2 separate regions of the Homo sapiens genome follow, and region 1 is linked to region 2. The links come from fine-mapping of genetic effects on gene expression. A gene starts in region 2. The other region holds a variant in brackets. All regions are shown on one strand. Distances are between the middles of the regions. Region 1 overlaps EIF4G3 (eukaryotic translation initiation factor 4 gamma 3). Region 2 holds the start of EIF4G3 (eukaryotic translation initiation factor 4 gamma 3).

Evidence for each region. PIP is the estimated chance that this variant, and not a neighbour inherited with it, causes the effect. A credible set is the group of variants that fine-mapping cannot tell apart.
Region 1: its variant is the best candidate, but not a certain one, in a credible set for the expression of EIF4G3 in whole blood (INTERVAL, PIP 0.51).

The regions. Positions count from the first base shown.
Region 1 is chr1:21,069,272-21,073,364 of GRCh38, reverse strand. The region is part of intron 3 of EIF4G3 (eukaryotic translation initiation factor 4 gamma 3); the gene reads left to right. Among named protein-coding and RNA genes, the nearest start is that of MIR1256, 83 kb to the right of the region's middle. The variant T/C (reference allele first, on the strand shown) is at 1,739.
Region 2 is chr1:21,175,108-21,179,107 of GRCh38, reverse strand. It overlaps EIF4G3 (eukaryotic translation initiation factor 4 gamma 3), which reads left to right and starts at 2,211. Exons shown (of 37, transcript NM_001391906.1): 1 at 2,211-2,386; 2 at 2,750-2,933. RefSeq lists an enhancer at 2,247-2,296.

The DNA of each region.
Region 1 (4,093 bases), 110 kb after region 2:
AATTTTAAATTTTATTTAATTTTCATTAATTTAAATGTGAATAGCTGCAAGGGCGTTTGAAAATGCCCTTCTAGAGGCTGACAAAATCTAGGTCATGTAATTTTGTAAGATTTTGATAAAGTATTTGGGTTTTATCTGATGTATAGAAGGAGCTGTTGAAGAGTTTCTACTAAGGGAATGACATAATATTTAAATCATGAAAATACTCATATTTATTAGCAGATGAATTGGAGTTTATAGGTTACATGGGGAGCAGAATGTTAAGAGCAGCTAAGTGGCTCTGGAATCTGACCAAATGAATTCAGATCCTGGCGCTTCCACTAGCAGCTGTGTGTGTCATTGGGTAAGTTTCTTGCACCTCAGTTTCCTTCCTCATGAGTAAAATGGAGATAATAATAGTGCTGATCTCCAAAGGTTCTTAAGAAGGTTAAATGAGACAAATCCATTTAAACCTCCTAGAGCTTGATACACAGTCATCACTCAGATATGTACCAGCAGCTGCTGCCACCATCAGTAAGTATTCTATTCTTACAACTACAATGAAGAAACTATTCATACCGTTTATTTGATATGAAATCTGAACAAGCTTAGTGTGGTGTTAGATAAAACGCTTATGACTTTCATTTCAATAGTGTTGCTTTTTTATTTTTAAAAAATATTAAAGGCTAGGCGTGGTGGCTCACGCCTGTAATCCCAGCACTTTGGGATACTGAGGCGGGCGGGTCACGAGGTCAGGAGATCGAGACCATCCTGGCTAACACAGTGAAACCCCGTCTCTACTAAAATACAAACAATTAGCCGGGCGTGGTGGCAGGTACCTGTAGTCCCAGCTGCTCAGGAGGCTGAGGCAGGAGAATGGCGTGAACCTGGGAGGCAGCACTTGCAGTGAGCCGAGATAGCACCACTGCACTCCAGCCTTGGCGACAGAGTGAGACTCCATCTCAAAATAAATAAATAAATAAATAAAATAAAAAAATTAAATGTCTTTTTCTGTATAGACATGGGATCTCCCTATGTTGCCCACACTGGCGTCAAACTCCTGGGCTCAAGGAATCCTTGTACCTTGGCCTCCCAAAGTGTTGGGATTACCGGCATGAGCCACTGCACCCAGCCAGTGGTGTTGCTTTTCAAACTTTAGTATTTATCATCAATACTTATTATATATTTGTCATCTTGGAATGTCCAACTTTATTACCTTAGAAAAGTAAACTCCTTTAATAAACTACTAGATGTACATGATACAAAACTTAGGAAGTTAAGGGATAAAAGACTTGTAGTATAATTATCCATGTGTTAAATATATTTTCTCTTTTGACTTAACCGTTGCCATATTATTAGACCCATTGTTCATTTTTAATAATCCCATAGGAAGTTGTTTGTAGAAATAATATAATTTTAATAGTGTTGCCTAGGTGTAGTTGTAGATTATTGTCACTTTATGTTTAAAAGCTACTTCTCTCTCTCTGTCTTTAACTTATTTGGGAAAATAGCATTTGGGAAGTAGCTGTTTAAGTGCTTTTCTTCTTCTTTTTTTTTCCTCTCTCTCTTTTTTTTTTTTTGAGACGGAGCCTCGCTCTGTCACCTAGGCTGGAGTGCAGTGGCGCAATCTTGACTCACTGCAATCTCCGCCTCCTGGGTTCAAGCGATTCTCCTGCCTCAGCCTCCTGAGTAGCTGGGATTACAGGCTCGCACCACCATGCCTGGCTAATTTTTGTATTTTGGTCAAGCTGGTCTTCAA[T/C]GCCTGACCTCGTGATCCACCTTCCTTGGCTTCCCAAAGTGCTGGGATCACAGGCGTGAGCCACCGTGCCCGGCCGTGTAAGTGCTTTTCAAATGCCAGTTTTTGCAGATGGTAGTAGTGGATACAGTTTTTATTTATGGAACCTTCTGTGGAGTGTCAGGACTGCACTGGAGGATTACATGGAGTGGATGTGTTTCTCTTTGGTTTTTTGGAGACAGGTTCTCACCCTGTTGTCCAGGCTGGAGCATGGTAGCATGATCATAGTTCACTGTAATTAACTTTGAACTCCTGGGCTCAAGCAATCTTCCTGCCTCAGCCTCCCAAGTAGCTGGGACTACAGGTGCATGTCGTCATGCCCGGCTAATTTTGTTTTGTTTCATTTTCTGTAGTGACAGGATCTCACTATGTTGCCCAGGCTGGTCTAGAACTCCTGGCCTCAGATGATCCTCCTGCCTTAGCCTTTCAAGGTTTTGAGATTACAGGCACGAGCCATGCCACCTGGCTAACATGTTTCTTATATTAGATCAATCATTTATTTTGGCTACTAAAGCTAATGTGAATTTTCAATTTATTCTTTATATCTGATATGAATTGCATTAGCTAATGTTGAAAATCAGTCATTTGCACTGAAGAACCTATTGTATGCAGGGTATGAGGGGGTGGTAGCGGTTGTACCTACTCTCAAGAAATGGAATGAAATATAATAAAATGAACTTACTAGACAACAATATCAATTAGTCCACTTTCAAGTTCTTTGGAAGTTTCTTTTTACACTTACAAAAAGATTCAGTCTATTATTACTAGTTAAGAATTATTATTGTGCTGTCAAGAATGTTTATGGAATGTCAGTTTACCTTTGATATTCTAAAACTGCCCTCTCTTCAGTTTTTGGGTGGTTCCAATTTATATTAATTGACATATCTGAAACTTAGCAAAAAGAAGGTAGTTTGTTTTTTATTTTATGTTTGCACATACATGTTTGGCTCTTAAAATGTTAGTAGGTTATATAGTTCTTTTCATTAAGGAGTTTTAAAAAATTAATAGTTAAGAAGAATGTAGTTATATCTACACCATGAAGTACTACTTAAACATTTAGAACAAGAATGAAGTAGGTATGTTTATTGACTTGGAAAGATCTCTAATGTTTTGATAAGTGGAGAGGAAAACATGTCATTGAATATTTATTATTGTGTTGTTGCTATTATTTTTACACATTTGTAAGTGTATAGAAAGGTTTGTAATAATGTGCTTCAGAGTATTAATCATTTTGCCATAGGGAGTGGAGTGGGATTTGAAGGGTAAAGAGGGCACTACTTTTTCTTTTTTTTAACAAAAATCATGTTTATACATTATTGTAGCAATTAGAGAAAGTAAGCATCAAACTTTTTTTTTCCACAGTCTTAGTTGCCACTGCCTGATATGCAAATTGGTAATAATTCTATCCTGATTCAATCACTAGATGCAAATGGTTTTCCACAGTGGCCTTAAAATTTTCCTAGATTATTGAAAAATAATATTGTATTAGCAGTAATAAGTTGTGGCTTGCCGTTTTCCTTTGTGGTCTTAAATTTATTTTTCCAAAATTTTAATATAGGACAGTTAGCTGAGTTCAAGTCTTGCATTACTTTGAAAGATCATCTTTGACTGAATTCTATAATGATTTATAAGATAACCATGATTGAGTATATTTCATTTCTCTATTCTTCCTGTGCTCACCTTTTACGTAAAACAACAAAAAAAATCTCATTCTTACCCATGATTAGCTCATCCTCTTTTCTTTCGACAAACCTCACAGTCAGTGTCATCAAATATTTGTGAAATCCAGATGCTGCTGCTGCTTTCCTACCCCCTCCTCTCCCCCGGTAAAAATTCCTACGAGTTAGACTCAGTCTTTTTTCTGTTTGGCCTTTCTTTCTAAATAGAGAACAGCCTTTCCTGTTGTGACAGCCTAAAATGTGTTTGAAGTTACTTTTCTGTGTTTTCCTAAGTACAAAATAACTGAAAGATCCTCTGGCCTCTTGGAGCTTGCTTTTCCAGGGGACTAAACATTGGAGATGTTGCAGAGCTTTTAAGAATATTGAGATAAACTTAATTTAGAAAACATATATTGAATGAGAGCTATATGCAAGGTTTTGTGCCTGGTAATGTGAGAAAGCAGTGGTGGACACTATGATCCTTGTCTTTAAGAGTGCTCATTTTACCAGGCAAGATGGTGATACGTTGTTTTAAGTACATGTGGGAATGTGAGGAAGAGACATTAATGATTATGTAAATGAGAACAAAAATATGTAAATAAGTAGTAACATTTACTGGTATAGTTTTTCTGGGTTCTCATTAAGCAAAAGTACTTGGAGG
Region 2 (4,000 bases):
TCCCAGCTACTTGGGAGACTGAGGCAGGAGAATGGCGTGAACCCAGGAGGCAGAACTTGCAGCGAGCCAAGATTGCGCCACTGCACTCCAGCCTGGGCGACAGAACGAGACTGTCTCAAAAAAAAAAATAAATAAATAAAAAAATCAGGTGTTACAAATCCAGACAGTTTAAGATGCCACAGTATGAAGTAGCTGCTGTCTTCCAGTCTGGAGATGGGGATGAGGCATCCTTTTCAATGTCAGAAACTGTGGAGCTCTAGCTAGAAAGACGCCGTAGGGGGGTTGTGGTATCACTCTCTTTCAGATGCTCTTTTATCCTAGAAGGAGCATTTGGGGCTCCCAGGGATTGTCACGAATTAAGCATCCACTATGTGTAGAGCTTTATATGAATTAAAAACAACAATAGGCCAGGCGCGGTGGCTCACGCCTGTAATCCCAGCACTTTGGGAGGCCGAGGCAGGCAGATCACCTGAGGTTGGGAGTTTGAGACCAGACTGACCAACATGGAGAATCACCGTCTCTACTAAAAGTACAAAATTAGCCAGGCGTGGTAGCGCATGCCTCTAATCCCAGCTACTCGGGAGGCTGAGGCAAGAGAATCGCTTGAACATGGGAGGCGGAGGTTTCCGTGAGCCGAGATCGTGCCATTGCACTCCAGCCTGGGCAACAAGAGCGAAACTCCGTCTCAAAAAACAGCAACAACAAAATAGTAAGGCAGTGTGTGAAGCAGGATAGCAGGAGTCAGAACTAGACTCTAATCTTAGCTCTGCCAGCCACACTGTCGGTGCGACCTCGGGGAAGTCTTTTGTGCGTTTTGAGCCTCAATTTTCTCAGCTTTTCTGTGGTTTGATGGTATTGAGCCTCCCCAGTCTCAGTTTATTCATTTGTAAAATGGATACTACCTATTTCACAGGACTGCTTGAGATAATGAAGGGTACAGCGCTTAGTGCCATGTCTGGTAAATATTATATTAAAACTTGATTGCTCCATGACGCCTGCCATTTTTTTTTTTTTTTTGAGACGAAGCCTCACTCTGTCGCGCCCAGGCTAGTGTGCAATGGCACTCTCTCAGCTCACTGCAACCTCCGCCTCCTGGGTTCAAGTGATTCTCCCGCCTCAGCCTCCCGAGTAGCTGGTGCCTGCCACCACGCCTGGCTAATTTTTGTATTTTTAGTAGAGACGAGGTTTCATCATGTTGGCAAGGCTGGTCTTGAACTCCTGACCTCAAGTGATCCACCGGCCTTGGCCTCCCAAAGTGCTGGGATTACAGGCGTGAGCCACCGCGCCCGGCCGATGCCTGCCATTCTTTCCCACTCAATGCCACTGTGCTTAGGACAAGGCACCTGCTAAGGAGTGGGGTGTGCGGGGTTGGGGGTGGGAGTGATCTTGGCAGGTCTAGCTGGGAAGAAAATCCTTATCAACAAATGTCACCCAGCATAGGACATTGGGGAGCTGATCACTGGCTGCTGGTCAAAGGGCGCTCCAGTCCTGGGGAAGGCCTAGGTTTGAATCCATCCACAGAGCTCAGTTAAGGCTGCTGATTAGATATGGCGGCTCAGGTCATGTCCCCAGCCAATATGGGAGGCGGCAAGGTTCATCCAGATGAAGGTGGCATTTAGATTTAGGCTCTGTCCTTTCCCGATAGGGTGACCTTGGGCTAGTCACTTTTCCTCTGTGTCCTCTGGAAATGGGGCTCCTCATTCACCTCTCAGAGCGTCTGAGGAAGTGTCGACACAATGGGTGTGAAATGCGTGGGTTACAGGCCGGCGGGTGGCATTGGTTACGCGAAGTCCCCGCGGGGGGTCCCTATCCAACGGGTTCCATTCCGGTTAAGCGGTTCCTTCTCCAGGGGTTTTTCGCCTCGCCGCTGCCTCTCCGCCCCTGCGAGCGGGGCTCAGCGAACAGCCGACTCCGGGGCCATTACCATTGTTCTTCGAGGCTGGGCCGCAGGGGAGGACTCTCGCAAGCCAGACCTCGCCTTTGGTCTTTCCCTCCGCCCCGCACCCGCGCCGCTGTAAGCCAGCGAAGCCTCCCTCGCCGATCTTTGCCGAGGAAGCGAGTTAGCCCCTGAGCCCTCCCGAACGGCGGCCGAGGACGCACCCGAGCGTCTCCGAAGAATCCCGACCCCTAGCAGTCTCCGGAAAGAGCCGAAGAGGCTTCCCACCCTCGGTTTCCCGAGCCATTCCGAAAAAGTCCGAAGTTTTCCGAGCAGCCGTCCTGCCGGACTGCTGGAGGCGGCCACAGCGCCATGTTGGATGCTCTGCTCGTTGAGTGAAGAAAATCCACCGGCATCGCCTGAGCCCCGCTACCGAGAAGGGCGCCGCTTCCTCCGGGGAGGGGGATAAAGATCCCCCGCCGCCGGCCCATGAGGATATTGCCGTGAAAGGTCCGGTCTCTCCGCCTCCTGCCCCCGCCGGGTCCGGCCCCCCCCCTGGGGTCGCGTTGTCACGGAGACCGGCAGCCGGTGGTGCTGGCCCGCGGGGCGGCTGCTGCTGCCGGCGGCGGCGGCGGCGGAGGCGGCGGCGGCGGCGGCGGCGGCGTCGGGCGTGTGTGACCGGCCCCGGCCCCCTCCTCCTCCTCCCCCCAGGCTCCCCCCAGCCCCCCGCTCCCGCCGCCTCCCCGGGTCTGCCCCCATCCCGCCCCCCCGCTGCCCCCGGCCCCTGCACCCCGGCGCGCCCGGTCCCGCTCTGGGGGGGTTGGTGGCTTCGCTTTGCCATGAGTTTACCGCAGAAACCGGCTCTGAAATCAGGCACAGCGACTGCAGCAGGAACCGGACCCGGCACCGGAGCGGCGGCGGCGGCGGCAGCAGCGGTACCGCCTCCTCACCCGGCGGCGGCAGCAGCGGCGGCGGCGGCGGCGGCGGCGGCGGCGGCGGCAGCGGTCCCCCCTCCTCACCCGAACATCAGGGCCCTCCAGACTCAGGCGCCCCAACAGTATCCTTTTCACCTTCCTGTCGGCCCTTCGGTTCTCGTCGTCGCAGTCCAGGGGGACCCCGCAGCCCAGGGGACCCTCCTGCCGGCCGCCACAGCCCAGCCAGGAAAGGGACAGCGGCTCAAGCCCCTGCATCGGGCTTGGGCGGAGCTTTTGGGGTGCCCCGGCAGCAGCACTGCGGGGGGACCCCCAGACCCTCTGCAATACTGTGAAAGCTAGCCCCACTTGGCCATGCTTCTGCAGCCCCTTCCTTTTAGAGCTTGGGGTCCCTTCTCCCCTCCTCCCCTAAGGTACCCTCCCCCCCTTTATTGGGCAGAATTTGCTTGGTGCCTGGGACCAACCCTGCAGGGAAGGCTTTTCTCTGGTTGTTGTGAGGATTACACCCTCCTGCTCTTCACCTCCCCTCGGCTCCCCCTACAGCGGGACACAGTGGGCTTCCATAATTATTATTAGTACATAATAAACTTTATCGGTAAATTTCTTGTTTGAAACCAATCAGCTCGTTTCCGAGGTATGTTGGATTTTCAGTCTAAGGTGAAAATGTACAGAAAGCAGTTCCTCTGGATAATTTTTTTTAGTAATGGGAGAGTTGTGATGTGGTTTGTGGTAGAGATCTGAGGAGGAAATGTGACGCCGGACGCTTCCCTGTCTTTGACCTTTTTAAAGGAAGAGGAAGTTCACCGACATTACCCATCACCCACAAAAGTCTCACTTCTTGGAAGATTTGTGTTAGGCTGAATATTTTTAATGGGCTTTAATTTACTCCTCATAGGCCTGATGTCTAGAGAGTTACCAGGGCTTCTGGAGGAAAGTCTAGTATTGAATGTTTCTAATTTCATGTTATTTGCTCGATTGTAGAATTTTGGAGAGCTTTGATTGAAAAGACTTGGTGATGGGGTATTTTAGTCAAAAACTAGCCGGTGAAGGTAAAACGTTGAATTCATGTATTCCACGGAGATTTAGAAAGGTATTGCGTACCTGAGAATAACATTTCATCATGCATCACCTCCTCCCTACACCCACTGTATTTGTGTAAATCAATAAATAATGATTGGATGTTAGATGTGTT